Homo sapiens: one gene and its partners. The protein of the gene in region 2 purifies or fractionates together with the protein of the main gene of each other region. This does not show direct contact. Each region holds a gene or a part of one and is shown on either strand. Other genes may lie near its edges.

Region 1 (4,788 bases), on a different chromosome or scaffold from region 2:
CTGGAGCACACACTCCATTTTGGCTTGCAACAAGTATACTGGTGAGGGTCTGCGTGAAATCCATTCTGACATCTTCTCTCCCATGGATATACATGCCTTCAGCCAACAGAGGCAGCCAAATGGTAAGTGATCCTTGATTTTTAAATTGCAAGTTGGAACAGCTTTGTAGCACTCTAATGTCTGGCTTTAGTGAGGATCAGGAGGAGGGAGGGCATATCCAAAGATAGTTGGCGGGAATAAAAAAGAGTTAAAATCCTACTTGGGAGGCTGAGGCAAGAGAATCACTTGAACTCGGGAGGCCGAGGTTGCAGTGAGCTGAGATTGCGCCACTGCACTCCAGCCTGGGAGACAGAGAAAGACTGTGTCTCAAAAAAAAAAAAAAAAAAGTTAAAATCCCAGCACTTTGGGAGACTGAAGCAGGCAGATCATATGAGGTCAGGAGTTTGAGACCAGCCTGGCCAACCTGGTGAAACCCTGTCTCTACTAAAAAATACAAAAATTAATGGGGTGTGGTAGTGTGCACCTGTAGTCCCAGCCGCTTGGGAGGCTGAGGCAGGAGTGTCACTTGAACCCGGAAGGTGGAGATTGCAGTGAGCCGAGATTGTGCCACTGCACTCCAGCCTGGGCAACAGAGCGAGACTTTGCTCAAAAAAAAGGGAAAATGTAAAAGTATAATTCAGGTTAGGCAATAGCCTAGACCATTTTGTAGCCTGTCACTACAGACCACCTCAGCCTTTTTGAGTCAGCGCTTTTAGAGGTGGAGAAGAGAGAGATAATTTAAAAATTGAGATAGCTTATATGCTAGGCTTATACACAAATGAGTTTTTTTGTTCATATTATTTCTTTCAGTATGTAGTTGAATGTGTTGATGTGAGTGTGTTTAAAAAACAAACTCTTGGGCCAGGCGCGGTGGCTCATGCCTGTAATCCCACACTTTGGGAGGCCAAGGCAGGTGGATCACTTGAGGTCAGGAGTTTGAGACCAGCCTGGCCAACATGGTGAAACCCCGTCTCTACTAAAATAACAAAAATATTAGCCAGGCGTGGTGGCGTGTGCTTATAATCCCAGCTACTTGGGAGGCTGAGGCTGGAGAATCGCTTGAACCCGGGAGGCAGAGGTTGCAGTGAGCCAAGATCACGCCATTGCACTTTCAGCCTGGGCAACAAGAAAGAAATTATGTCTCAAAAAAAAAAAAAACAAAAAACACACACACACACAAAAACGCCTCTTCTTTTTAAATGAAAACTCTGTTAATCTAGAATATATTTGAATTTAAGTACCTCAGCTTGCTAAATAAAATACCTACTTAAACTTTTCTGTGTACCCCTCCCACCTTGTTTTCCTTAGTTTTGGTTCTGTGTTTGGTCAGCCTTTACAATGACTCGGGCTATGACTGCTGAGAACTTGTAAGAGAGGACTGGAATTAGGTTTAAAAGGAATACGAGAATGTTAAGGGTTTGGCACTTTTGTGTAAATAAATGTCTGGCATCTGTCTGAGTGTATTTCAGATTTTATTACATAGCCAAAAATGAAGAGATTTTGCAACATATGTTGCTTTATATTAGCTCTCCATTTAGGGGGAGATAATCAAATATTGAAAGTGTTATGTTGGAATCTGATGATCATGAGCCCATAAAAATGTTTTTAAGTGTATGTGTTACTCTTCTGTACAAAAGAAAATGTTCAGTCACTTGTATGAATTTTTTTATTCTTCATAGCCCTCAAAAGAGAATTTTCCCTGTTTTTTGTTTGTTTTTTGAGATAGAGTCTTGCTCTGTTGTGCGTTTATGTGATCACGGCTCCCTGCAGCCTCGAACTTCCAGGCTCAAGTGATCTTTCCACCTCAGCCTCCCTAGTAGCTGGGACTACAGGCATATGCCACCACACCTGGCTAATTTTAGTATTTTTTATAGAGGTAGGGTCTCACCATGTTGGTGACCCAGGCTGGTCTCAAACTCCTGGGCTCAAGTGATCCACGCACCTAGGCCTCCCAAAGTGCTGGGATTATAGTCACGAGCCACCGTGCCTGGCCTCTTGTTTTTCTTTTTAAATGGCATTGTTGGTCCTTTATGTTTTACTAATTTGAGAATTTGCAGTTATCTTTCATGTTGGTTACTTTTATCTTTCATGTTCCATTGGTCTCCATCTTATGTTGATTTTTTTCTATGAGTATTGTTTGGACATATCCCTTTCCATAATTTCCAAAGTTTGCTAATTAGTTTTCTCTGATTTTCATTTTCCCCTTTTTTCTGCTTATCCCTTCTATGTTAATCTTCCCAAGGCATGACTTTTCAACATAATTACTTTTCTTGGCTTTCAGTGTCCTTCACTTTAATCTATTCCCATTCTTTGTATTCATTCAGCTTTAGTTCCTATTAGTCAGTAGAAACCTTAACCTCCAGTTATACTGTTCACCTTAATATCTTACCCAGTTTATAGCCCCCAAAGTTTTATTCAGATAGCTTTACCATACTTGAAATGTCCTCTTATCTATCCTTCCTATCCTTGAAGGCTCCCGTGCTGTATACTCCACAAAGCTCTTCTTCAATTCTTTAAACCTCAGCGGTTTTTTTCCCATTTGACTCTGTACTTATTGTCTATAATGTGCAAAATAGCACTTAGTTTTATTGGTTTTGTTTGTTTGTTTGTTTGTTTTTAGTTTTGCTTTTTGTTAATTTTGTTTAACTGACTAAATTGTAACCTCTTTTAGGGCAGGGATCTCCTGCTTTACTTCTTGTGTATTCCTCTTTGGTTACAAAATACTAAGTAAATTCACACTGATTAATTCCTGTCTTTGCAGATGGTTTGATAGTCAAGCACCTGCATGACATTTGGTAATAATTTTGGCTTATCACAGTTGTTCATGTTATGGTTGTTAACCTTTGTGTACTTAGTAATCATTGATATTAATCAATGTGATTTATATTTGACAGCCACAAATCCATGTGGAATTGACAATGGGGGTTGTTCCCATTTGTGTTTGATGTCTCCAGTCAAGCCTTTTTATCAGTGTGCTTGCCCCACTGGGGTCAAACTCCTGGAGAATGGAAAAACCTGCAAAGATGGTAAGAAGATATTATCCAAAATGAAAAATTTTATAACTATTGGAATTCTTCATGATTTGTTTTCTCTATAATCAGCTCTCTAGGTTATACTGCTTTGGGAGACCAGTCACTTAATTTCACAGTCTTCACACATGGTTATAGAATAGGAGTGTTTTGTTCTGTGGCATCACTTGAATGCTATTTTATAAATTATTTTAGTGTTTTAAATAACATATTTTTGAAAAAAGTTACGTGTTGTATCTTTTCTGTCAAATCTCATAGTCATTGATATCACAGTTGATAACTATGGAAATGAGTAGTCGCATAAGGAATATATTTTTAACAGGTAGCATTTGTGAATAAAGAACCTCTGTGAAAGAAAGTATGTTTATTAAACTTTTAGCTACAAAGAATATCATGAGATATATTTTATAACAAATTATTTAAGGATGTTTTAAATTGCTTTTTAACAACAGAGAGATGCTTTCAGAGCTGGGAAAAAAAATCCATATTTAAAACAACTTCTTTTTATACTTAAGAAACACACTTTGCCTGTTCTCCTTACTCTTAATTCCCTATAGAGAGAGGGCACGTTGGAGAAAGTATACTGATTTAGGACATTTTAAGGGACTTCCAGTTTGGAAGAACACCAGTTCTTCTGTTTTTCTTCTTAATGAGAATGTTATTCTTCATTCTCACCCCTATGGATCACCATCTGGTTCTCTAGCAACCAGCAAGACCTGGTAAGAAAATTGTTGTATTTAGCTGTGGCTTCTTTATCTAACTCTGAAAAGCAGAAGCCTGTGTTTTGGAGTGTGTTAGAGTCCCTGGCAAGGGGGCCAGGGAGTCAGAGAGATGGAATTGAGTCTGTGTACAGGATGTTTGTTATGACTTGGCATTGATAAATTATCCTCATAGTAAAAGGTGAAGCTGGCTGACTCTTGGTCAAATGGTTTCCATGGCAGACAGCAATTTGGTTTCAATTTAAAACAAAAGGTTTTTGTAATGTTGCTTTTTTCTTTAAAAATGTAGCCTGACTTTAAAACAGAGGATTTATTTTAGCAATAATGGTCTATCTGCTCCCTCACAGCAGTGCAAGTGTACATATTTAACCAGTTTTGAATTTCATGTGTGCATTTGGCATGTAGTAGCCTTAAGTTAACTGTTCTGTTTTGATCACCTTGCTCAAATTAACAGCTCTATGACTTCTTTGTGAAGTTCTAGGCTGGCTCCTTTTGGTTGTTAGCCGGGGCAGTGAATTGTACAAAGTTATTCCTACTTGGTTCCTGCAGTGGCATTTGGGCTGTATTTTCTTCAAGTTGGAATTCATTTATAATTAGCTCTAGAGTGAAAGGGCTGATATTGAGAGGCTTCACTCCTCTTCTCAGTTTTTTGACTTGTAATTGCAGATTGATTCTTGAAGTTTATATGCCAGTATTTTGTTTTGGACTCATTTATTTAGCTGGGAATCTTTTCTTATTCTTTCAGTTGTCAATTTGCTTACTGTCTTTTATTAGCTTCCTATAGTTAGACGATTTTTTGCTGGTGGTTTACTTGAACAATTTAAAATGAAAAAAAGATTGAGCTCAGTATCTTCATTCTTGGTTATGTGGTTAAGTATTTGGGGCTTGGGCTTTAAACAGTTCATAAATAAACCTAATTTAAAATTCAGTGAAATAAAAATCTGAAAATCTTTATTTTTTAATACTGTTGTTAAGTATTAGTTAATATTTCTTGAGTACTT
Region 2 (4,718 bases):
AACTGGTCTCTACTAAAAATACAAAAATTAGCTGGGCGTGGTGGTGGGCGCCTGTAATCCCCGCTACTCAGGAGGCTGAGGCAGGAGAATCGCTTGAACTCAGGAGGCAGAGGTTGCAGTGAGCCAAGATCGCGCCACTGCAATCTAGTCTGAGTGACAGAGTGAGACTCTGTCTCAAAAAGAAAAAAAAAATAAAGATATGCATAATGAAAAAAACAAAAGATATTTGTTTCACGTATACTATGTATGTTGCCCTTTTTGCAAGAAATAGAAGACTTCAGTCTTTCTTCTTCTTTCTATCTGATGTCTAATCCCAAGGAAGCATGTTTAAAAAATTACTTATCAATTAAAATTCCATATTCTTACAGAAATGACTGGGCTCAGGTACCTTTGAGTCCAAATTTCTTCTCTGATCCTTGATAGCTGGATGACCTTGGACAAGTTTCTTCATCTTTCCTAGCCTCTGTTTCCTCATTCATAAAATTAGGGTAATAACACATTCCTAATAGATTTTCTGTGAGAATTACATGAAATAACCTATGTGAAATGCCTAAAACAGATCCCAACATGTAGAAGCTCAGTAGATGAAGTTATTTATTATTATTAAACATTGTCATGTTTTCCTGAATACTGACAATTTGAAATATTTAACTTGTTCCTTAAAATGAATCTGGAAAGACCTTAAAGAGGCTAATTTCCAGCCATGATCTAAAAAACAAACAGAGCCCCAATTGAACTTTAGATTTTTACAAATATTATACAGAAGACTCCAAATTTTGTCCTTCTTAAATGCACCAAGATAACACAACATCCTTTGTTAGAGGTGGAAAATAAACAGCTTCGTAGGAAACAAGACTTTATCAAGCAATAATTTAGAGATTTGTGTCCTTTTTTTATTTTATCTCTTTTATTAAAAAGAGAAAAAGCCATTCTTGATTCAGAAATATTTCTCAGATCATTATAGAATAACAATCAGGACTCTCCACCTTTTATTTTCATTGCTGGGTTGTAAAACATGGCTCTCTACAATGCCTACTCCAGAAAGATATTATTCTACAAATAAGGGCTCAGCATGACATTTATGAGAAAGCCGGGGTCCTCCTGTGCAAAGCTGATTGGTGATCAGCCAGTGGGTTCCGGGGCGCTGCAAATAAAGGCACTTTCTTCGCTGGGCTGATCAGATGCAGGACAGAGGGTTGCCTCTGCCTGTGGACCTTGGGGAAATGCGCGGCTCCTGTCCTAGCAGCACCTGTCTGTGGCCAGCAAGGAGAAACCAGACTCTCACAATGAAACATCTTCGTCCCCAGTTCCCTCTCATCTTGGCCATCTACTGCTTCTGCATGCTACAGATTCCCTCCTCAGGTAAGGGGAGCTTCCTCAGACTCCATCTGGCCTAAACTCTGAGGATGTCTGAGACAGACCTTGATCCCCCAGGGCAGCTCTGGAGGGAGTCAAGCTTTATTCTCCCCCGCCAGACCTTCTTGATTTCTGGCTGCAATTTGTTGGAACCTTTAGGAGAGGATCAAGAGAGCGAGATGCTGCAGCCTTTTACTAAAGGAGACTTTTCCCTGTGGGACTGTCTTTAAGCTGCTCCTGCCCTAGGGATGTCCTGAACATGTGTCGCTAAAACTGAAGGGAAAGGCACTTCCTGGTGTGAGTTAGGGGAAGATCCCACTTGTAGCCATTTCTGCTCCCTGGATTCTGAAGAGACGAGGACAGAGTTGGTAAAACTGAGCTTACAGCCCCAGAGAGTGGAAATTGATGGGCAGTTCGAGAAGGGCGCGGGAGGAGCGCACACTGGAAAAAGGAATCTTTCCCAAGCCTTTCCATTGGGTTTTAGAGAAGCAGGGTTCCAGAGTGTACCGGAAGCCGCTACCTCCCGGGGCCAGTGAGCTGTCCGAGGTGCTGACCGGGTGCGGGCATCGCCTCACCGACTCTGAGAACTAGCTTCTAGGGAACAGGGGTGGAGTGAGGGTCTGTGGTTGGAATCTGTTACCACCATCTTCATAGGATGCAGGGAAGTGGGCGGTGGCAGAACAACTACGGTTGGAAACACATACCATTTTACATTTTTCCATTAGAATTTTGACTTAGGGGAGTAGAAAATCTTTGGTAATATATTGACAGAGAAAACATATTTCAAACAATATGTTTGTTTGTCATGTCCTACAATGTAATCACAAAACTGGGCCTTGCAAAGGACCATGAAGGTCATCTGGTTTAACCTCTCACAGGGTGCAGGGATCCCTTCTGTAGCTTCCCGATTCTATTTAACTACTTCAATGACCCCAACTCACTGCCAGCTATGACAGCCAGGTTCTGCCTCTTTGCTCCAGTAGAGTCCTGTTTATATTACATTTTTGTAAATATGTTATTACCTTTTATGTATCTTTCTATATGTTTATACTCACCTCCCTATTTTTTCCTGTTTGACTTTATGTTCCCTGAGGGTAAGTCTTTACGTTTTATTAGCAAAGAACCTCTCCATAAATCCTTATAGGATTGGTTTGCATTACTTTGCATTATTGAATGATTCCAATCACCAAAAACTTCTTTAGGCTAAGCTTAAGTGTGATCACATGTAACTTTCTAACCGTCAGTCTTTATTCTGTTATTTGGGGGAAACACAGGATAAGACTAATATCTCTTACTTATTGAAGTTCTCAAAATAGTTGAAAGCAGTTAACATATACTTCCTAATTTTCCTGTTTCCAGAGAAAACTATGCTCAGTGCCTTTACCTCATATCTTATCATTTCAAGTCAGGCTATTATCTTTTAAGGTTTAGGCACTGTTATTTGAATATAACATAACATTGCCTTTGCTTTATCTTGGCTCAGAGAGAACGCAGGGAACAAAATACCATACAATTTTCTTTTGTCTTGTTTTTAAACATAAACTGCTCTTGAGCCATACATTCCCTGTTCCACACATTAAAAATCTAAGTGCCAGGTTTTATATTTATCCATCTAATTTCATCTTGTTAGTTTTGACCTATCCAATTGATTCTTTCGACTGCACTATAGCTATCCCACCAAGTGTTGTATCACAGGCAAGTGAGAAGAGGAGTTCATTGAAGTTAGACAAAAGGTTGACAGGGTCCAGCTGCATGCCAGCAGCCTTCCCCAGAGCCCATCCCTAGAGAGTCTGTAGCAGCAGAGAGACGGGTATCCATGTGTCTTCAAAGTTCAAAGGTGATTCTGATGTCCATCCTTTGTTGACACCATTTTCTGAGATGCCATCCTCATGAATTCTATCAAAATACAAACTAAGTTGTTACCTTGGATTTTTTTCCTCCTCTTTGCTGACTTGCTAATAGTTGTACTGAACACTCATGGTAAATTAACAACCATGCTATTTTAAATTAATCTTTGTATAAATCTCAGATTTGCTAGTGGCAAGTAGAAGTGTATTTTCTTTGTAAATCCTTTTAACAACATCAGATCAGATCTTACTTTCCCACTGACCTCTTTTGAATGGTTCTTTGGTGGTTTATTATTTTAACAGAATGTCTGTTTTTCATGATAAAGACTTTGAAGTAAATGCTATGACCTCTTTTCTCTAATTAATAATTTTATGATTTCTCACAATAGGATTTCCTCAACCTTTAGCTGATCCTTCAGATGGCTTGGATATTGTGCAGCTTGAGGTACCCAATTATTCAGTAATGTGAGATTTTTGTTTAGTCTGGACCTTGAATACATCATGTGTATAATGTTCACTTAAAACTATTTTGAGATCAGATTTTTGGCTGCAGCAGAAACTCACTGTTGCCATTTTTCATGGCCTCATTTAAGGCATCCTGAGGGTTGTGTTGAAATTCACTACCACTGTGTGAGAAAATAATGTGAGGTTCAGAAATAGGACAATTTTAGAATTTTAAATCTGTTGTAATAAAATTCTGCTGACTGAAGAATTTAAGCTTATCTTTGATTCGTTGTCTAAATTTTAAATGCATAATAGATGTACATACTTTCAGGGTACATGTGATATTCTGATACTTTCATATAGTGTGTTACAACCAAGTTGGGGGAAATGGAATATCGATGGATATTAAACATTTACCTTAAATAGTTACATTTTCTTTATGCTGGGAGCATTTGAATTATTCTCTATTAGCTATTTTGAGATATCCCATAGATTATGGTTTATACTATAGTCACTCTACTGAATTATCAAACACCAGGCCTTGTTTCTTCTATCTAATTGTATTTGATTACCCATTAATCAATCTCTCTCTTCATCCCCCTCATCCCTTTGATTTGTTTTCTTCATTTTATTTTTTAGCAGCTGGCATATTGTCTGAGTCAGTGGGCACCTCTTTCTCGCCAACCTAAGGTAAAAAAATGTGTATATATATAATATATATAAAATATATATATATGCAACAAACACACTCTTTTGCTACCTACAGGAGAATGCTGTATGTATGTGCATGCTTATGTGTGTTCAAGAATATAATTTTAGAAAAAATCAAGCAAATATCTTAAATATAAATATGTTAAATATCTTAAGTATCTTCAATATAAATTACTATAAAATATGGGTAGTTCATGTATATTCTTACAATTATTATAATCATGTATAGTTAAGCTAATTATATGTTATGATATATTGCATATTACAAATTGATATACCATGATATAGCAGTTCTCCAAAACAATAGTTATCATTTAAAAGACTTTACAGTAACTAGTTGGGCCTGGTGGCTCACACCTG
Region 3 (4,788 bases), about 40 Mb from region 2:
GAATGATAGTAAAGGTCTTAATTTTTTCAATGTTAAAAAAAATTTAATCCATTGCTGAGTCATTCTTACAGAAGATGTGATTTTTTTTTTTAGTTACAGTGCCATGATACTTGAGTTATTACCTGCTGATTGCGAATAGTTTGTGTCTAATGCTTGGTATTTGATTTTTTATATTAAAGAAAAATAATTAAATGTATGATCCTAAATTCAGTTTGCTTACAAAAGTCACACAATATTTCCTACTTTTACATCTTTTTTTTTTAATTTATGCATCTAAAACTTTCCTCATTTAGGGATGAAGCAATACCCACCAGGATATGGCTGCATGTGTCTAAACCATGGTATCATTCCACTGACCTATTTTAACTAATTGCAAAATATTCAAGTCAGTGGGGTTACAACGATAATAATTAAAGTTCTCACATTTCTCAAAAATTTGATTTAAGTAACTTAGAGATGATATGATGTCTCTATAATAATGTCCCTCTCATTTATTTAAAAGAGAAGGCCTTCTAAAATGTTTTCCTGAATGGGAGATAAAGTAATAAAATTGCAACTGCTATCCTGGAAATTACAAGTAACTTTTTGTCTGTCCTAAAATGTTGCAGCTTATGACCAACCATTATGAGCACATTACACACTCAAATGTTACTCTTCATATGTATGTCCAGCATAAAAAAATGAAATTTAAACTGCTGATTTAGACAACTTGCTTGAGTAACTTAGCAGTACCCTTGATTGAGTTTACAAATATTAAGCTTAGGTTAGCAATAAATGCCTAAATTTCTAGGTAGCTTATAGGAAATGCTTTGGCTCTCAGAGAAGGATGTAGTACTCATATATCGTACTATAATAAAGATAGCCTGTCATTAGAATCATTGACTCCTGACTTATTTTTAAAAAGTGTTACAGCTTAACAGCAGCTCTAAATATCAACTGTTAGCAGCTTGGTCTAATCTGTATTTAATGTTAATGAGTTTAGTTTTTATACTTCTATACATTTATAAGACATGGGGGCTTATATGGAGAGAAGACCGTAACCTTGTACATTCAAAAAGAGTTATCTGTGGAATAATAAATACCATTTCAAACATTTTTTAAAAGTTAACTCCCCACTTCAGGAATTAGAATTATATTAGTTTTGATCATATTTTTAAATCCCAGCTCCTACTGAATATACCTGTGAAGATAATGTGAATCCATGTGGAGATGATGCATATTGTAATCAAATAAAAACATCTGTTTTCTGTCGCTGTAAGCCTGGATTTCAGAGAAACATGAAAAACAGACAATGTGAAGGTAGAGTACTTTTCTTCAACAGTTTGCTCATAAATCTTTGGGTTATGAAGATTCCCAAGACTTCTAAATTGTGAGATCACAGGGGATTGACTTTCATCAAAATGGTGTGTATCTACGGGATACCATTTCACTTATGAGAATGAAAGTCTCTGGGGTCAAGAGCTTGTTTGTGGAGCTAAGCTAACCACGACAGAGGCTACAAAGCTTTTTCTATAGCAAATTCAGAGCTGCAGGAATTTCAATTCTATTGCTACAATACTGTTTTGAAATGCAAATAACGAAATTCCTGGTTCAGGAACTATTGGAGAATTAGTCTTGCTTCATGAAAAAATATGTTTATGATGACCCATTTCTCTTGAGTGTGGAATTTGCAATACTGGAATAGGTAAATCACATTTAGAGAGTCATGGGCTTTTGTCCTAAAACCATGTTTTAAATAGATCATAATGTATCTTTAAAAATTCAAAGTCAGGATCTACATAAATCTGTCAACTTACTTGAGATCATTTAAAAATTGAGCATGTAGGATAGCCAAAATCTTATAGTAAGTAAGTAAATATAATTACATCAGTGTTCTAACTATAGAACCATGAAATACAGACCCATATGCACTTTCTGCAAGTTTCTCCAATAAAACTGCTATTTGTATTCATATTCATATTAATGTAAGTACAGCCAAACCTAAAATAACTAAGTCTGGCTTATCCAGGCTAAATTCAAGTCTTTAAGTGCTTTTACCTACCAGCTTGCTTTTGTTATGTCTCTTTGTGATATTTTGAGGTTAAGAAAAATGATTCTACTTCGTGTTAATCAAAATGGAATTATTTAAATGAATTGATTCTACTCACCCAAAAGGGGAAAAAGTGTAGTCACGTCATGTTTATCTACATTTTGAGTTAAATGTGTATTTGGATTATTCGTGACATTTGATTGTTCCATTACTATGAGACTGAAAGATGACAACCTAGGTTTTCTGTGTTTTAGTTAAAAAATGAATTATCTTTCAAACTATGGTATTTATTTTTCCCAGGCTCTTTCTATCAATTACATATAAACACACACACACACAATTCTTTCAATATTTTAATTTCAATAACATTTATTTTCTAATATTTGTCAGTGGGTTTTTTCTGTATATATGTACTAAATTTAGAAATTATATTATTAAAGTTTTCTTAATTTTTAATTACATTCCACAGCAAATATAACCTGCACACTACATTCTTTATTTTAAATTGCTATGAATCCACTTTTTTGTATTATTTTGTAGGACAGACGAGTAACTTCTGAACTCTAATAAAATGTTCATCTATTTTTAATAAATAAAGTTTTGATTTTAAGGAAAATAGTTCTATTTCAGTGTCAAAGAAGGGTAAGACATAATTGGATTCTATAATCCAAAAATTTAAATTTGTTTGTGCCCTTCACTTATGTATCTGAAAAAATGCATAAGAAATTGCTATTTGATGTTAAAGCCCAAACACTTCAATTAGAATATCTAAAGGGAAAAAAGTAAAGAGGAATGGTGGAAGAAAATTAGAAGGGGATTAACAGTTGCTGAGTGCCAGGTACTGTTTTGGGTACTAGGCATGTGTGGAATTCCTCCATCCCCTTCAAAAGCTCATGATCCAGGCTTTCTAGAGATGAGGCGAAAATGATGGTTCAGGCCAGTATAATGACAAGTGAGGAAGTTGAGGTTGTATGAAATCATGCAGAATACTGCTTATTTGGATTCTGTACCAAAGGGAAACCATAGTGACAAATAACTGCCGGTTCAAAGTTACAGGGGCTGAACAAATCAGAAATATTTGTTGTAATCGTGATGGTTAAGTACTGACAAGATGCATTCTACTTCATTCCTGTAAAATATTTATTAAAAACAACGAAATACACTTTTCTGCATCTCTTTACTCTACATTTCAATCAAATAGCAATGTGTGGTCATGAAAATGCTTATGTGTTCTTAGGCAAAGTATCACAGTAAAGTCAACAAAATCAGAAAACCTGAGTTTAAGCCTTGACGTTGTGATTTACAAGTGTCTCTACCTCTGAGCCCTTAGAACATTGTTTGTGTGCTACGCAAAAGATAGTTATTCTTACTGTGCTGATTCTTAAGTTCTCTAATTCAAGGGAAGGATTTATCTCACAGATTTATTAGGTAATTAGGAGATTATAAGTGATAAAATGAGGCAGGGGAAATATGCTGGCTAAACACAAAAGTAGAGGAGGAAAAGAGAGGAAAATTAGATAATTCCCTAGAATCACCTGGCCTCAATCCTGGCTCTTCATAAGCCCTTAAAATTAGAGTCATGTGCCAAGCTACATGACTCTGATTAAATCACATGAATACTGCCTGTGATTTATTTATTTATGCTAGTGATTTAGAGGTATTTATTCATATATAGGCATGCAGATTTTGCTTGCTTAATTCACATCACATAACCTCAATACAGCCCTTCTTGTTACGTAGTCACTTCATATATATGAGTCCAGAAGTGTGTTAGAGATGTGCCCAAATCTTTGTTCTCTGCCAGTCATTGTGCAAAATCTGGCAATAAAAAAGGAATGTATCATAATTTATGTCCTCAAGGGAATATGAATATGTAACCACATTCCTGAAATATAAGCAACAGTGTAAGAGAGAAACACCAGGAGAGCAAAAACTGGAGAAACTAAGGATGAATCATCACTCCCATATATGGTTGGAGACCAAGGAAGGCTTTATTTCAGGTGGATCTTGAAAGATGAGTAGAAATTCTGTATGGAAAAGTGGGCAAGGGCATTACGGGATGAAAGAATAGCCCATGATACCTTCGAAGGCATGGAGGTAGGTCATCAGAAACAGCTTAAAAGAAAACCTCAAGACAGGTCTATTTGCGTGAATGGAAATCTATACAACAAACCCCCATGGCACAAGTTTATCTAGGTAGCAAACCTGCACTTGTATCCATGAACTTAAAAGGTAAAAAAATAAATAAGTAAAAATTTTAAGAAAGAAAAAAGAAAGCCCCAGGGAAGTTTGAAATTGAAGCTTTAATATTTTAAGTGGATTAATAAAAGCAATGACAATTGATAAATCTTCTACTACAAATATTGTGAAAAATGATTATACCTTCAAAAATATGACACAGCAGGTCACAGATTAAAGATGTGAAAGGACAATAAAGCTAGTAATAAGTTAAAAATAATTTTGGCTTTTTTGAAACGTGGTAAGAATAGGAGTCTGAATTGAGGGTATGATGATGCTATTTTGAGCTCTTCTTTTCTAGACCTTAATGAATGTTTGGTGTTTGGCACATGTTCCCATCAATGTATAAATGTGGAAGGATCATATAAATGTGTGTGTGACCAGAATTTTCAAGAAAGAAATAACACCTGCATAGCAGAAGGTAAGATTATAACCACTATTGCAAATCCTATTACAATTTTGTTGTAAACATTTTATGGAGAAAAATGTTTTATATTTCATTCCAGCAACAGCTTCATTTC
Region 4 (3,689 bases), on a different chromosome or scaffold from region 2:
TGTGCTGGTTTGGAGGCAACCTCAAAGGTTAGAAGTATAATAAGGCTAGGCATGGTGGCTCACACCTGTAATCCCAGCACTTTCAGAGGCCGAGGCAGGAGGAGCACCTGAGCCCAGGAGTTTGAGACCAGCCTGGTCAACACAGCAAGACCCCATCTCTACAAACTATATTAAAATTAGCCAGGTGTTGTGGTGTGCACCTGTAGTCCCAGCTATTAGGAGGCTGAGGTGGGTGGATTGCTTGAGCCCAGGAGGTCAAGGCTGCAGTGAGCCATGATCACACCACTGCACTCCAGCCTGGGCAACAAAGCGAGACCCTCAAAAAGTATAAAATGCAGTATCCCCTAGGGACTTCTAGCCCCACGTGCACACTTTCCAAAGGGGATGACCTCAGAGGAGGGGCGTAGTTTCCTCACTTACGTCAAACAAACGGGAAGAAGAAGTTAAAGGGCAGCCTGGCATTGATGGCTGGTGGAGCTCTGAAGCCTGCCTCTGCAGGTGCAGACACATCCACAAAAGTAACCGCAGTGGAAATAAGAATCGTCCTTTCATTTCCTGAGTTGGCCTGTAATAAACAGAGAGATGCAAGGCCCACCCTCCAGTGTGCTCCCAGAATGACAACAATGAGACACTTTTCATTCTCTTCCTCACCCAACTACTGTCAGTTCATGAATCTGATAGGTCCTGGAGCACTAATTGGCCATTAACTTGGATGAGAGAAACAATTTTACCAGGGTGTCTGATTAACACGTGAATATCATAATTTTCATGAGAATTTTAAAGATCCAATCTGAACCAGAATGCTAATGTAAGTAGAACCATCGTCAGTGTTTCTAAGAATGACTGCTGAAATATTTTATGAACCCCCATGGTTTAAATTATAATCTTTTTCACAAAGTAATACCTGTCACCTACCACACTTGAGTTGTGTCTAGACTTCTGTCTTAACCTATGCCTTTAAACTAGGTTAGGCCTACCTCAGGAAAGGAGGATGAAATTAGATTTGCAGTTACATTGACTATTTTGGCCTGTGGATTCAGCAGGGATCCGTATTTAGTCCACTTCACTTCTATAACCAAAGCCCCTGGGAGCTGGCAGGAATCCTGCAAAACAAAATGCTGTTAATCCATTAGAATCTTACAAAACTGCAAGTCAGACTTAATCTGCAGTTCAGAGTTTTAATTATAAAAGGTTTCACATATTACAAAATGTTCTGAACAAGAAAATGAATAGACTCTACAAGTTCAGATAAAAACAGCTTAGAGAATATACGTGTTTTAAAGTAACTCAATGCCCCAAAAATATTTTTAACAGCTGAAGCGTAATTTTTCCATCTCCTCCTATTTCTAAAAATGCCGACATCACCTGAAACTGCGGTAGTGCCAATACCCAACTGTGGACCATTTAGGGCCATAACTGCTCTAACTTCATCTACCTGTTTATAGCGGCCTCACAGACTTCAGGAAAGAAACTGGTGGGAGGGATGGAGGGGGAGAAATAATTATTAGCAGACAAAACCTGATTGCATGTCATGTTAAAATGCTCTAAGGGGAAATTTAAGTGCTTTCTTTTCATTTACCTAATTTCATCAATTGGCAATTAAGATGTGACATCTAGGTAATCCAGGCAGTGTCCGTATGTTGTCAAAGACATCAACTCTTCAACTGCATCAGGAACACTGCTGGTGCCACGAAGGAGCTGAGCTGCCCCTTTGGTTGGCTGCTTTGGCAGCCAGCTCTAAGGCCTCTGACCCAAGGGAAAAAGGGGCCGTGGGCTTTCCAGGGCTTTTTCCTGCCTTGGCAGTCTCTCCGGTTGGCAAATGTGGTAACTGTTGAAGCTGCAGGCTGGGTACGTGGGGACTCCATGGTACTATTCTACTTTTGTGTGTGTCTGACATTTTTTCATTAAAAAAAAAAAGCTTTAAAATACATCTCTTCAGGATATGAAAACCTCACAGGCCTGCTAAATTTGGTGGCTGCGAAAAAAGCACTGATGGAATTCCTTAGCTTGGAACCGCCTTTAAAAACCATGCAGACTGAACAATCCTCTCGAATACCCTGTTCTTAGGAGACAATGCAGCATGCAGCTGGTGGAAACTGAGTTTAGCAGGTGCTCGTGCCTGCCTCTACCTGGGTTGCCGGCAGAGTTGGTACAAAACCTGCTGCTGCAGGCCCTCTGAGCACCCAGGATCAGCACAGACCCTGACGGTGCCATGTGCGCACTGCTGCCTCTCCTCCCAACCCATGTCTTCCCTTCTGAGGAGGAGTAATAACTGCACATCTTCACCCATGGCCAAGAAGCCAGAAGCGATGTGCCTGGTTCTGGTGGGAGAGTTGAGTCAAGACTTCGCAGTGGAACGGCAGGGACTGAGTAATCCCGGGTCTCTGCTGGCCTCGGTGGGAGGGCGGATCAGAGAAGTGAGCAGTCCTCACCCCCGTTATGCCCATGCTAGAAATATTCGGAGCGGATAATGAGAGGTCTGAAGAAAGCGTGACAAGAACAAGCTGGGCAATTACAGGCTAAGATGGAGAGCACGCCCCTGGGCCAGGGCCGGCCCACACGCTGACTGCTAAGACAAAAGAAAAAGGTGGGCAGAAGCATCATGTGTGACCGGGAACCTATCTGTAGGATTGTCAACTTCCATTCAACTCTGTGAGGAACTGTGGCAGTGAAAACTCTCAGGTGTGGGCTGCCTGTGTAGAACAGGGGACAATGGGTGGGAGAGCCACATGCACGGAAGTCAGTCTCAGTCTTTGATACAGGACTCAACATTCGTCTATCGTGTCATGAGATGCCTGGAGAGGGCTCGGGGGACACCAGCAATCACAATGATGGTAGCAACAGGATGAGGATCACAGAGGTTCCCATTTATGGACCACTAGGCACCATGCCCAGGGCCACATAAATGTTACCTCACTTAACCCTCTCAATGCCCCATGAGGCCATTCACTCACTATTGACTAGCGTTCCCATTTCACAGATGAAAACAGAGGCTCAAAGCCATAAAACTGCTGGCCAGAGGCAACATTGCTAACAAGGGGCAAAAATCAGTATCCAAGATTCAGCCCGCGCTCCCACTCAGGGCCATCCTGCCTCCTTAACAGCTGGCTTCCCCGGCTGCCTTCATCACACCACCTGGAAGACAGAGACCACTAGCATGGAACCTGTACCTTCTCCCCTTTACCTTCCTGTTGAATGACTGGGTGATGAAGTGGATGGGCACCCAGTCCAGCATGTCCTGGGCCTGGGAATTTCCAAAAGGGGCCACGTAATCTGGGAAGCCCTGGCCCCACAGCAGGCTCTTCACCTTCTGTGCTACGAGCTGACACGGGAGAGCTCCAGTCAGTCTTGGTGAAGGAAAAAGAAGTCAACTGAATGAGGCTGTTGTTCATCCACCAGCAGTTTTTCATTTTCTTCTTCCTTTCCTTCCCTTTGTTTATTTATTTTTGAGATAAGGTCTCACTCTGATGCCCAAGCTGGAGTGCAGTGGCACCATCATAGCTCCCTGCAGCCTCAAACTCCTGGGCTCATGCAATCCTCCCAGAGTGCTGGGACTACAGGAGTGAGCCACCACACCCAGCCCACCAGCAGTTTTTTGTTTTTTAAGTTTTGATTTTTGGTTTTTTTGTTTTGTTTTGAGATGGAGTTTGCTCTGTTGCCCAGGCTGGAGTACAGTGAGGCAATCTTGG
Region 5 (4,788 bases), about 90 Mb from region 2:
GGACCCACCGCCACCTAGCACGAGGGCACCCCGTGTGTCACCTCCAGGGATCTTGGGACCCACTGCCACCTAGCACGAGGACACCCCGTATGTCACCTCCAGGAACCACGCGACCCCGACCCCACTCTAAACATTGCCCAGAACCCTCTCCCTCCCCCACTGAAGTGCTTTCTCTTCATAAGGCCAGGACGTGTCTACACAGCATGTGGCTGCCGTGGATTCTATGGTCCGACAGTCCACTTGTCTACCCGTGCAGTGCCAGAACCACCCTGTCTCATTCCTGGCATCAGGCAAGCCTGGCTGTCCGCTAAAGCATGTCTTCCCAGCTTCTTTCTTTTTCCAAGAGAGTCTTGGTGATTCTTGGCTATTGGCACTTCCACGTACAGGTGCTGCTCAGCTTACAATGGGGTTACGGCCCGAAGAAAACATTGCAAAGTGGAAAAATCCTATGTTGAATCATCAAAATCAGGGACCATCTATACATGTATTATAATCAGCTTGTCATATTTGGGGGAAAAAAACCTTGGGGATTTTTCTAGGGTTGTATTAAACTATAGATCATTTTAGGGGGACTTATAGCTTTACAATAATGAGTCTTCAAATTTATAAATAGGGAATATCTATTCATTTAGGACTCCTTTAGTGTCTTCTAAGAAGTTATCATTTTCCCTATAGAGATACCATGGATATCTCTTTTTATTTTATTTATTTATTTTTGAGACAGAGTTTTGCTCTTGTTGCCCAGGCTGGAGTGCAATGGTGCGATCTCAGCTCACTGCAACCTCTGCCTCCCGGATTCAAGTGATTCTCCTGCCTCAGCCTCCTGAGTAGCTGGGATTACAGGTGCCCGCCACCACACGCAGCTAATTTTTGTATTTTTAGTAGAGATGGAGTTTTCCCATGTTGGCCAGGCTGGTCTCGAACTCCTCACCTCTCAGGTGATCTGCCCACCTCAGCCTCCCAAAGTGCTGGGATTACAGGCGTGAGCCACTGTGCCCAGCCAGCAATGTTATCTTTTTAAAATAAAATTTTCTACTTGCTTGATGCTTCAGAAATGACTGAGATATATACATTTTAAAAAAATTCTTTTCTTTTTTTTTTTTTTTTTTTGAGACAGGGTCTTGCTGTGTTGCCCAGACTGGAGTGCAGTGGCCTGATCATAGTTCACTGCAGCCTCCACCTCCCAGGCTCAAGCAACCCTCCCATGTCAGCCTCTCGTGTAGCTGGGACTACAGGCTCGTGCCACCATGAAGAGCTAATTTTTCATTTTTTGTAGAGATGGGGTCTCACTGTGTTGCCCTGGCTGGTCTTAAACTCCTGGACTCAAACAATCCTCCCATCTCAGCTTCCCAAAGTGTAGGGATTACAGGTGTGAGCCACTGGGCCTGGTCAGAGATATATGAATTTATCTTGTGCTTAGCAGTCTTACTGAATTCTCTTATTAATTCCAGTAATTTATGGCTTCCTTTGGATTTTCTTATTTCCCATTCACATGATCTGGGAATAATGGCCATTTGATTTTTCCCTTTCTGGTCCTTATACATTTTTCCCCTAACCTTTCTGCACTGGCTGGGACCTCCAGTAGTACAGTAAAAGGAAGTGATGATGACAGTCATCTCTATCTTAATCCTTTATTGAAAGAAAAAGTTTCCATCACATCATGACTGAATATGATATTTGCTGTAGTTTCTTCTCCAGCTATCTTGTATCAGGTCCTTGTCTCTCTATGCTGTGTTCTGGGTCATTTCTATCTCCCTCTCTCCATCTCACTGATCCTCTCTTCATCTCTGTCTAATCTGTTAAACTTATACCATTGATATCTTTCATTTTGCTTATTATATTTTCCATTTCCAGATGTCCTATTTGGTTCTTTTTCACATCTTCTAGGTCACTTTCTATAGTCCTTGTCCTTTGCAGGTGTTTTCTTTAAACATAATAAACGTAGCTGATTATAGTCTGTGTCTGGTGATCCTAGTAACTAAGATCTTCATTGGTATATTTTTGTTTCTTGTTTCTTCTAAGTCTTCACTTGGTTCTTTGGGGAGTTGATTATTTTTTGTCATTGGCAGCTTGTCATCATTGAAAAATTCCCTCTGGGTATTCTTTGAGGCCTAAGAGGCCTTCCTCCAGAGAGGGGATGCATTTGCTTTTGTCAGGCACATAGCAGGCATCCCTGGTCTGAAACCACTTCAAATTAAATCTATACTTTCAAGTATTTTGGACCACCAGGTGATGAGAATTTAGGCTGCAAACATAAGAGGTGCCTGGGTTGAGCTTACAACTTCCTAGAGCTTGCAAGATCTTTCTGTTCAAAGGAAAAAACTTTTGGGTAAATAGGTGTACACGATTACAAAGAAACCCACTCCAACTGCATGTGCTAGTCAACCAGTTTTTGGTTCATAAATATAAATGGTCATAAAACGACTCACAAACATTTAAAGGGGGAGGGCACATGAAAGAATAATCAAGATGAACCAGCTAGGCGTGGTGGCTACCAACACTTTGGGAGGCCGAGGCGGGTGGATCGCCTGAGGTCAGGAGTTCCAGACCAGCCTGGCCAATGTGGTGAAACCCCATCTCTACTAAAAACACAAAAACTAGCAGGGTGTGGTGGCGGGCACCTCTAATCCCAGCTACTGGGGAGGCTGAGGCAGGAGAATTGCTTGAACCCAGGAAGCAGAGGTTGCAGTGAGCTGAGACTGCACCACTGCACTCCAGCCTGGGTGACAGAGCGAGGCTCTGTCTCAGAAAAAAAAAAAATTAAATTTTAAAAAATAAATAAAAGTCTCCAGGAAGGGATGAGCAGGCGGAGACAGGCCACCTACAAAAAGCCAAGAGTCAGGTGGCCTCACCTGCTCATCAGTGACACTGGAATCCACTGTTATAATGGCTGCAAAGGTATAAGGGAAAGCTATTTTGAACTCAGAATTTTAATTCCAAATAAACTATTAATCAGGTATTAAGAAAATGAAGATATTTTCAGACATACAAAGACTTAGAGTTTATCTCCTATTACCCTTTCTGGAGGAAAAAAAATTAATTATTTTTATTTTGTTGTTGTTGTTGTTTTTTGCGACGGAATCTTGCTCTGTCACCAGGCTGGAGTGCAGTGGCACAATCTTGGCTGACTGCAACCTCAGCCTCCTGAGTTCAAGCGATTCTCCTGCCTCAGACTCCCGAGTAGCTGGGACCACAGGTGCGTGCCACCACGCCCAGCCAATTTTTGTATTTTTAGCAGAGACAGGGTTTCACCATGTTGGCCAGGATGGTCTCGATCTCTTGACCTCATGATCCACCTGCCTCAGCCTCCCAAGATGCTGGGATAACAGGTGTGAGCCACTGCGCCTGGCCGAAAAAAATATTTAAAAAAAATTTTTTTTTTAATCATAGAAGATAGAGGTTTCATGAGCCTAATGGAATGCAAGGCAGAGGAAACTTTGGATAATGTGTAATAAGGCCAGAAAGCAACCTGTCAGTGTCCAAAGTTCCCATGACATAAATTGAGCGATCAGAGTAGCTGCTCCAAATATCTGAAGAGCTCATGTGGAAACAGGCCACACTTCTTCTGCCTGTCCCAGGGGCTCAGTGTGTCCCCACTAAAGGGAGGTGGGTTGTGTTCAACACAGAGGACTAAGTCAGAGCTGCCTGTGAGGGAAAGGCTGCCCCAGGAGGCAGTGAGATGCCTGTCACTGAAGCCAGACAGAGGCTGGGTGATCCAACAGCTCATGCCCCCTTCTTAGAATTCAAAATCAAGGCCAAACACACACCCTGAAGTCACGCACTTCTATTTCTAGGGTCACTGTGAACGCTCAGCAGGTGAGGAGGGGGAGGGCAAGGGTAAGAAGGGATCGCGACAACAGCGTCTTCATGCTCCCGTCTCCTCACCTTCCGGGCCTTGGTGTACTTGGTTCAATGCCAAGGAGCTCCCCAGGGTTCTCCCAGCCTGGCCCAGTACCCTCTGATGGGTGTGGCTTTGCCTTGACCTCTATCGCTGCGGTCCCCGTGCTGAGATGGAGAACCTGTTTTATTTTTATTTTTCACTTTTTTTGAGATGGAGTCTTGCTCTGTCATCCAGGCTGGAGTGCAGTGGCGTGATCTCGGCTCACTGCAACCTCTGCCTCCAGGGTTCAAGTGATTCTCCTGTCTCAGCCTCCAGAGTAGCTGGGATTACAGATGTATGCCACCACACCTGGCTAATTTTTGTATTTTTAGTAGAGGTGGGGTTTTGCCATGTTGGCCAGGCTGGTCTTGAACTCCTGACCTCAAGTGATCCACTCGCTTCAGCCTCCCAAAGTGCTGGGATTACAGGTGTGAGCCACTGCGCCTGGCATATTTATTTATTTATTCGAGACAGGGTCTTGTTCTGTTGCCCAGGCTGGAGTGCGGTGGCCTGATCATAGCTCGCTGCAGCCTCAACTCCTGGGCTCAAGCAACGGTCCCATCTCAGCCTCCTGAGTAACTGAAACTACAGGCACATGCCACCACACAAGGCTAATTCTTGTACTTTTTGTAGAGACGAAGTCTCCCTATGTTGCCCAGGCTGGTCTTGTACTCCTGAGCTCAAGCGATCCCCCCACCTCGGCCTCCTAAAAAGTGCTGGGATTACAGGCATGGTGAGCCACCACGCCCAGCCTGAGAACCCTTTTTGTTTGTTTGTTTGTTTTGTTTTGAGACGGAGTCTCGCTCTGTCATCCAGGCTGGAGTGCAGTGGCGTGATTCGGCTCACTGCAACCTCTGCCTCCCAGGTTCAAGCGATTCTCCTGCCTCAGCCTCCCGAGTAGCTGGGAT
Region 6 (4,788 bases), on a different chromosome or scaffold from region 2:
GTGACTGTGTGTGATTTTTGTTTTTGTTTGTTTTTGTTTTGAGATGAAGTCTTCCTCTGTTGCTCAGGCTGGAGTGCAGTGGCGCAATCTTGGCTCACTGCAACCTCCGCCTCCTGGGTTCAAGAGATTCTCCTGCCTCAGCCTCCAGGGTAGCTGGGATTACAGGCGCCTGCCACCACATCCGGCTAATTTTTTGTACTTTTAGTAGAGACGGGGTTTCACTGTGTTGTCCAGGCTGGTCTCGAACTCCAGGCCTTAGGTGATCTGCCCGCCTCAGCCTCTCAAAGTGCTGGGATTACTGGCATGAGGCACTGTGCTGGGCTGTGTGAGATTTTTGGATAATCCATCGCTCAGTTGTTTATTCCTTGTTCATGAGTACACGTAATCTCTTTTTCTGTGTGCAGCTCACATCAATTTGGCATTAGTGGCCAGATAGGGAGGGCATTTATTTGTCTGGGTTGTCACTTTTGGGTTGGTTTTGTCTTTAACCGTATGTGTAGGTCAACTAAGAACTCGGGGGCAGAGGAGAGCCCAGGCAGGCCCTTTGTGCCATGTCTTGTCACTCTAGGAATGGTATCTCAGCCTGATGACCTGTGTCCTCTCCTTAGGTGCTGATAGGAGATGTGGAAGATGCCATCTGCCTTCATGCCTTCTACTATGCCATATGGAAACGATATGGTGCCCTCCCTGAGAGATATAACTGGCAGCTGCAGGCCCCTGACGTTCTCTTCTACCCACTGAGACCAGAGTTAGTGGAATCCACATATCTCCTCTACCAGGTACTAGAGTTGTGTTTTTTTTTTTTTCCTTTCACTGCCTCCCCTGACCCCAGCAGTTCATTCTTAATGAACATTTGCTGAGTGATTTAGGGTTATGTTGTTTCATAGTGACTCTGATTGAGTTACCCCCTATCCGTAGTCTTGTTAGTGTTCAGTGTCATTCGTAACTTCACAGGACAGAGAAGGCATCTGCAGTCAAATATGTTTTTAACCTAATATTCTACAAAGCTGAATCATGTTTTTACCGTAGGACTTATAACTCACATCTTTAAGTATTCATGAGGAAGATTTGGTACTAAGGTGTTTTCCAAATGTATGTGACCAGAAGACCCGTTTTTAGGATGCAATTCTGCATCAGTGTACTGTGGAGCCCCGGTCTGTGTAACAACTATTCAGACAAAAAGAAAATTCATTTTCTTGGTTGTAAAGGAAATCATCTTGGATTCATCTGGATGCCTGTTTTTGTTTAATGTTTGTGTTTGTGTGTGTGTGTGTGTATATATATATACACACACACACACACACATATATATGTAATAGTGTTCATCCTTTGTGAAATTACTTCAGTGGTAGAGGGAATGTGACTTTAACTGTGAAATGTCTTCTTCCTGACGGTTGAAGCCAGGTATTTATACTTCTGTGTATGCCATACATATATACACACTGAGAGTCCTCCTCCATCCACATGCACAGCAGCACGAGTGGTTAACTCACCAAGAAACTGGCCTTGGTGAAATTCAGTAGGCCGGTAACAGATGCCCACCGTGGGCCAGCCCTAGCAAGCAGGGCCTGAGTTTTAGAAACTCTGGTAGTGGGGAGTTTTAGAAACTCTGGTAGTGGAGCTAACACTAAGATTTGAATTTATTTATTCAACAATTTTTTTATACCAAATCCTTGCCGTTTGCTTCAGATGAAAAAAGGGGAAAGAAATCCTGTGAAACTGGTAGTAGTCCTCATGCCTAAAAAGGGACTTCATGAGTTTTAGGTAACCTCTCAAAAAAGGGAAAAGATAATAGCCACCTGTTTGGCCTTTCTGAGCCCAGTAGAAAGACTGTACACGGAGGATGGCGTGCCGGTTACTGGCTGATTTCTTCTCTTAAGCTTAGTCCTGTGGCCTGTGAGCTTACTCCTCTTTGTTTCTGTCACTGCTTCTTTCATGTTTTCCGTTTCTCCTTCACGTTGACAGAGATGTCTTGCACTCTTCAGCTTTACCCTCCGAAGCCACACCCTGTGCACTTTTAATCTGGAGACTGCTAACCTTGTTGTTTGTTGCTGCAATCTGGCACTAGGCATGAATTAAAGATCCCCAACTTTTAAACTGTTTGTTGGATAAAGGCTTATCTTCCCAGAGAAGTTTTTCTCTAGTAAAACCATCTAAGAGTATGTGTGAGAAGAGTAGGCAACTGAGGACTGATTTCTCAGGGTGATTAGAAAGGAAAGGGTGGCGGCCTCCTTTCATACTTCGGAAAGTCTTGTTCCCATCAGCCTTTCCTCATGGTGCCATAACTGGAATGGCGGCAAGGTCCTCTTTCCTGTGCCTGTGTCTTAAGTTTCTGGAGAGTTCTGAGGCAAGATAGAAATTGGATTTGTTCTCAGATATGGTGCTGTCAGCGTGGGCATTGTTTTGTTTCTAATCATGATGGCAACCAAAGTAGACTATTGTTCTACCCTGGAACAGATGGTCTTACCCCTGGCTAAAGTTAACCAAATCACAGGTACTCTTTGATGTGAACTGACGGAGTACCTTAGTCCTCTAACCATTGTGACCCTGCAAGATAAATGACCTGGGCCCTGTTTCTTCCTTTGGCTGGCGACTCGTCTCCATGGGGAAGCCCCGCAGTCACCATGATGTTTGTCGATGGCATGTCTTCCAAGCCCATGCTGGATCACATTCTCTCGTGTTCTCTCTAGGCAACCAAGAATCCCTTCTACCTCCATGTAGGAATGGATATTCTGCAGAGTCTGGAAAAGTACACAAAAGTCAAGTCAGTTTTCTAAGTTCCTACCTTTTTCTGTCAGCCACTTTTAATTTATTTCAAATTGTTTTGGGGAAATATCCTAGTTTGCATTTTAATTTATAGAACCAGGTCATTAATGTTACATTTACAGGGAAATTGCTTACCTTTTGGTGTAGTAGAACCTTTCCATTGTACTGAGAACTGCCCTTTCTTTTCCGTGAGGTTCTAGCAGATTATGGGTGTTCATTCTAACTTCTTTCCCCTAGTTATATAATAACATATACGCTAAAATGTTTAGGGAGTACAGAAAATATAAAGCAGTAGAATATTATCACTGTAATCTCCACATACAGAGAAAACTGTAGTCAGTATTGAAATGTATGTACTTATAATCTTTTAAATATTTTTATATATGATGTGTGTATATATGTATATATAAGAAACATACTCTATATTTCAATTTTGTGACATGCTTTTTTTTACCTGCTGTAAGTTTTTTTTTTTAAGTACTATCTTAAATAATAAGTCAATACTCAAATAATAAGTCAATTCTCAATAATAAGTCAATTCTACAAGTATTAGGACTAGAAATTTAAATTAGTCCTTTTACATTTGTTGCCGGTCATTTTCCTGGTGCCACGTTATGCTTCTGGCCAGCACCCCGCCACCACGCCCACACCCTCTAACTCACCTGATAATTTAGCAGCCAAAAGCACTTGCTAAGTAAATTTGCAAACAACCCAGGCTATAAAAAAGGAGAGCCCCTCAATGTAAACATAGTTTCATATGGTGTTGGATGACTGGTTGATTATTCTGATAAGAGAATGTTTCTGCTTCTTAAGTGAATCAGCAGGTGGGAAGGAAGAGAGGCAGGACTGACCAGATGATTGTTTTGTAGGTGTGGGTACGCCACGCTGCATCACGTCATTGACAAGTCCACAGAAGACCGGATGGAGAGCTTCTTTCTCAGTGAGACCTGTAAATATTTGTATCTGGTATGTGTGTTGCAAGATGAACCCAGGAATATTTAGTATTGCTTAGAGCAAGCATTCGCATAGTCTTCCATCTGACAGGTACTTACTGGCTAAAGCTATGTGCTGGACATTGTGCATTCCCAGGATGCAAACGCTGTCAGAACCAAAGGATATTACTATCTTCTTTCATGGTTTCCAACCTTGTTGAAAAGTCATTTGTCAAGTAAACCAAGAACTGAACTTATGATTACAAACTGTGGGAAATCCTGGTAACGATTGATACAGAACCAGTGTTAGTTCTGTATCTAACTACAGGTGGTCGGGGAAGACGCCTCTGAGGAAGAGAGCTGTGTTCATAATGGCTTCTCACTTCTCTTGATGTATGTGATCTTAGCCAAGACCTGCAGCTCAGCCTTGTCTCTGTCCATACACACATCCTCAGGCACATGAGTGAGTGAGTGTGTGTGTGTGTGTGTGTGTGTGTGTGTGTGTGTAGAGAGAGAGAATTTCTGGACCTGGACGAACCCTTTGGTATTACCTAATGTTCATATGTTCATCATTTCCCTCACAAGAACTACAGCCTACACAGAGGTCAGGCGACTTGCTCAAAGTATGGCGATGGCTGTGGCAGAGCTGAGGTGTGAACTGTGGTCCTGACTCCCTGTCTGGTGCTCTTTCCATCTCACCGCTCTGCCTCGTGCATACAGCCACTCTCGTGCCCCCTGCCACTTTCCTCAGTATGGCCACATAGAAACAGAGGGCAGGATTTCCAGGTTAGAAGATAGCATGGCAACTGAGAACTTGGGCAGAGGGTCAGAGATAGAAGCAGCTGTGATAAATTGTGTTTATCTAGTTCCGTGGTTCCTAGGCCTGGGGCTAGCTGGGTCCAAATCACCCTGGGGCCCTTGCTAAGATGACAGCCATATTAAGTCAGAATCTTCAGAATAAGCGGGCTCAGAAATCTGTCATTTTGACAAGTGCCTCCAGTGGTTTCACATGAGCCAGGTTTTGGAGCTGCTGGTCTAATCCATTAAGACGATACTCTTCTCTGTCTGGGGTCTTTTCACAGATGACTGC
Region 7 (3,500 bases), on a different chromosome or scaffold from region 2:
GCCTACTAGTAGAATAGGAAAATAGTGGGGGTCCTAATAAAGAGAATGACTTTGGTGATCTCATAAAATGCAGCAGGCAGTAAGCAGTAAAGGCATCAATCACCAGGACAGCTCTGGAGCAAACTTAAGCTCGTCAGCATACCTTTCCACGCATACTCATTCTCATCCAGGCATCCATGCCCATTCAACACACTTTTCAGGGTATGGGTGTTCTCAGCACTAAATTAACAGATATTGTAACTGTTCCATGATGTTTTATAAGTAAAAAATCCTTTGCAATCTAAACTTGCTAGAACACATTGTCAAATTTTAAATAATTTTCTTTCCCCTCAGAAATTAACTTTTTCAATGATAAAACATGTATTGACTTATCTTACCAATAGCAAGTACAATACATACATTAAAAAGCATTTTTAGAATTCTCTTAGTTATTCTGAAAGAGTGGGTTAATGTTTTATTCTCAGATTTTGGAACATGGCCACAAATGCAAAGCAAAAGAGTACTCAAATTCAGATTTCACATGTGTTGTAAAGCTGCAACTTGTTAAGTTTCCACACACATATTTGACCCATTAAGACCTACCTTCCTTGAATTTCCCATCTATCATTTATTAAATTAAATACGAAATACCTGATACTTTCTATATCCCAGGAGAGAAGTTACAATATAGGCTGTAAGTGTTACTGGACTTTTATTGCCACCTTGAAGCTCACTATGAATCACTCTTCCTGGATCCCAAAATTCACCGTTGGATTTCTGATGTCCTTTAAGCCAAGTGTATGTTCTGTGTAACACATTCTGATCAATATCTATGTAAGGATCGGCTTCAAGGAAACATCTTAAAACAAAAGCTGACAACCTTTATGAAAAGAGAAAAAAATTACATAAAATACACTTTATAAGGTCCACCAAATAACACCGAGCAAGCAAAACAACAACACTTTTTCCCCCATCAGAAGATTCATCAAAGGGGGAATCACTGAAGATGGAACAAGGAAAGAAAAAAATCAAAAAAGAAAGAGCAAAGGGACAAGGTAAGCAACTCTCTCTAGCAGGCAGAACTGGTTTCCACTTGGGCTTGGCCAAGAAATTCCATGTTGACTCAAAAATCTCAGATTTGAAAAGGAATTTAGAAATGATCTAATCCAGCTCCATTTTTTAATTTAATTTTATTTTATTTTATTTTTATTTATTATACTTTAAGTTCTAGGGTACATGTGCACAACGTGCAGGTTTGTTACATATGTGTACATGTGCCATGTTGGTGTGCTGCACCCATTAACGCGTCATTTACATTAGGTATGTCTCCTAATGCTATCCCTCCCCCATCCCCCCACCCCACAACAGGTCCCGGTGTGTAATGTTCCCCTTCCTGTGTCCAAGTGTTCTCATTGTTCAATTTCCACCTATGAGTGAGAACATGTGGTGTTTGGTTTTTTGTCCTTGCGATAGTTTGCTGAGAATGATGGTTTCCAGCTTCATCCATGTCCCTACAAAGGACATGAACTCATCCTTTTTTATGGCTGCATAGTATTCCATGGTGTATATGTGCCACATTTTCTTAATCCAGTCTATCATTGATGGACATTTGGGCTGGTTCCAAGTCTTTGCTATTGTGAATAGTGCCGCAATAAACATACGTGTGCATGTGTCTTTATAGCAGCATGATTTATAATCCTTTGGGTATATACCCAGTAATGGGATGGCTGGGTGTGGGGAAAAGAAAGAGAGATCAGATTGTTGCTGTGTCTGTGTAGAAAGAAGTAGACATAGGAGACTCCATTTTGTTCTGTACTAAGAAAAATTCTTCTGCCTTGAGATGCTGTTAATCTGTAACCTTACCCCCAACCCCGTGCCCTCTGAAACATGTGCTGTGTCAACTCAGGGTTAAATGGATTAAGGGCTGTGTAAGATGTGCCTTGTTAAACAGATGCTTGAAGGCAGCATGCTCGTTAAGAGTCATCACCACTCCCTAATCTCAAGTACCCAGGGACACAAACACTGCGGAAGGCTGCAGGGACCTCTGCCTAGGAAAGCCAGGTATTGTCCAAGGTTTCTCCCCATGTGATAGTCTGAAATGTGGCCTCGTGGGAAGGGAAAGACCTGACCGTCCCCCAGCCCAACACCCGTAAAGGGTCTGTGCTGAGGAGGATTAGTATAAGCAGAAGGAACACCTCTTTGCAGTTGAGATAAGAGGAAGGCATCTGTCTCCTGCCCGTCCCTGGGCAATGGAATGTCTCGGTATAAAATCCGATTGTATGTTCCATCTACTGAGATAGGGGAAACCTGCCTTAGGGCTGGAGGTGGGACATGCGGGCAGCAATACTGCTCTTTAAGGCATTGAGATGTTTATGTGTATGCATATCTAAAGCACAGCACTTAATTCTTTAACCCTGAGTTGACACAGCACATGTTTCAGAGAGCTCAGGGTTGGGGGTAAGGTTACAGATTAACAGCATCTCAAGGCAGAAGAATTTTTCTTAGTACAGAACAAAATGGAGTCTCCTATGTCTACTTCTTTCTACACAGACACGGTAACAATCTGATCTCTCTTTCTTTTCCCCACAGCTGGGTCAAATGGTATTTCTAGTTCTAGATCCTTGAGGAATCACCACACTGTCTTCCACAATGGTTGAACTAGTTTATGGTCCCACCAACAGTGTAAAAGTATTCCTATCTCTCCACAACTTCTCCAGCACCTGTTGTTTCCTGCCTTTATAATGATCGCCATTCTAACTGGTGTGAGATGGTATCTCATTGTGGTTTTGATTTACATTTCTCTGATGGCCAGTGATGATGAGCATTTTTTAATGTGTCTGTTGAATCCAGCTCCATTATTTTGTAGACTGAGAATCTGACAGTCCAAGAGAGTTAAATAAATTGTCCAAGGTTATTCATCTTTGGACTGTTCTAGATATTTACCAAAGAAGAGCTCCAACACGCTTCAGTCAGCCCCAAAGCTGTGGGTGAAGAATGCATACATAGTTCACAAGCAAACTGTAGTACTTCAGGTGGGGAAAATGATATTTTTCTCTCCTATAGAATGGGAGTTAGCCAACTGCAGCCTGTGGGCCAAATCTGCCTGGCCCAAATCTGGCCCTCAAGCCAAATACAGCCCAGGGCCTGTTTATGTGTGCACCAACCCAGCCCCCACCTGCCAACACCACCACCTAAGAGCGGGTTTTAAAAGAAGGAAAAGAAAAAGACAAAGACAGGAAAGAAAGAGGGAGGAGAGGGAGGAAGAGGGAAGAGCATGCAACGGAGACTCTACGTGGCCCAAAATGCCTGAAATACTTACAATCTGACCCTTTACAGAAAAGTTTGCCAGTCCCTGCTACAAAACACTATACTGAGGTAAAAAGAACATCAAGCAATACAACACTGAAAGCTTTCTATTTATGGTTCTATATCCTGAGTCAGGCCAAGGCCAAGAGAAAATTTGAAGCAGATCTGTTTCATGTTATATAAAGTTTCATGTGGTAAACATTACTGATATTCAA

What was found.
Region 1: the proteins of NMS (region 2) and LRP6 purify together in Homo sapiens (affinity purification with mass spectrometry; one large-scale study listed by BioGRID and IntAct). This does not show direct contact.
Region 3: the proteins of NMS (region 2) and LRP1B purify together in Homo sapiens (affinity purification with mass spectrometry; one large-scale study listed by BioGRID and IntAct). This does not show direct contact.
Region 4: the proteins of NMS (region 2) and TCTN1 purify together in Homo sapiens (affinity purification with mass spectrometry; one large-scale study listed by BioGRID and IntAct). This does not show direct contact.
Region 5: the proteins of NMS (region 2) and CYS1 purify together in Homo sapiens (affinity purification with mass spectrometry; one large-scale study listed by BioGRID and IntAct). This does not show direct contact.
Region 6: the proteins of NMS (region 2) and EDEM1 purify together in Homo sapiens (affinity purification with mass spectrometry; one large-scale study listed by BioGRID and IntAct). This does not show direct contact.
Region 7: the proteins of NMS (region 2) and CD109 purify together in Homo sapiens (affinity purification with mass spectrometry; one large-scale study listed by BioGRID and IntAct). This does not show direct contact.

The regions. Positions count from the first base shown.
Region 1 is NC_000012.12:12,182,257-12,187,044, reverse strand, and holds part of LRP6 (low-density lipoprotein receptor-related protein 6 isoform b precursor), read left to right. Parts: coding exon 1-122; intron 123-2,933; coding exon 2,934-3,065; intron 3,066-4,788. UniProt on the Homo sapiens protein: Component of the Wnt-Fzd-LRP5-LRP6 complex that triggers beta-catenin signaling through inducing aggregation of receptor-ligand complexes into ribosome-sized signalosomes.
Region 2 is NC_000002.12:100,469,203-100,473,920, forward strand, and holds the start of NMS (neuromedin-S preproprotein), read left to right. Parts: upstream 1-1,279; 5' UTR 1,280-1,286; coding exon 1,287-1,362; intron 1,363-3,592; coding exon 3,593-3,648; intron 3,649-4,286; coding exon 4,287-4,337; intron 4,338-4,718. UniProt on the Homo sapiens protein: Implicated in the regulation of circadian rhythms through autocrine and/or paracrine actions.
Region 3 is NC_000002.12:140,352,853-140,357,640, reverse strand, and holds part of LRP1B (low-density lipoprotein receptor-related protein 1B precursor), read left to right. Parts: intron 1-1,164; coding exon 1,165-1,299; intron 1,300-4,568; coding exon 4,569-4,688; intron 4,689-4,788. UniProt on the Homo sapiens protein: Potential cell surface proteins that bind and internalize ligands in the process of receptor-mediated endocytosis.
Region 4 is NC_000012.12:110,644,625-110,648,313, reverse strand, and holds part of TCTN1 (tectonic-1 isoform 1 precursor), read right to left. Parts: intron 3,348-3,689; coding exon 3,185-3,347; coding exon of another isoform or gene 3,171-3,184; intron 1,119-3,170; coding exon 978-1,118; intron 566-977; coding exon 422-565; 3' UTR 421-421; intron 1-420. UniProt on the Homo sapiens protein: Component of the tectonic-like complex, a complex localized at the transition zone of primary cilia and acting as a barrier that prevents diffusion of transmembrane proteins between the cilia and plasma membranes.
Region 5 is NC_000002.12:10,066,316-10,071,103, forward strand, and holds part of CYS1 (cystin-1), read right to left. Parts: intron 1-4,788.
Region 6 is NC_000003.12:5,207,485-5,212,272, forward strand, and holds part of EDEM1 (ER degradation-enhancing alpha-mannosidase-like protein 1), read left to right. Parts: intron 1-608; coding exon 609-779; intron 780-2,690; coding exon 2,691-2,764; intron 2,765-3,635; coding exon 3,636-3,732; intron 3,733-4,788. UniProt on the Homo sapiens protein: Extracts misfolded glycoproteins, but not glycoproteins undergoing productive folding, from the calnexin cycle.
Region 7 is NC_000006.12:73,804,203-73,807,702, reverse strand, and holds part of CD109 (CD109 antigen isoform 1 preproprotein), read right to left. Parts: intron 860-3,500; coding exon 631-859; intron 1-630. UniProt on the Homo sapiens protein: Modulates negatively TGFB1 signaling in keratinocytes.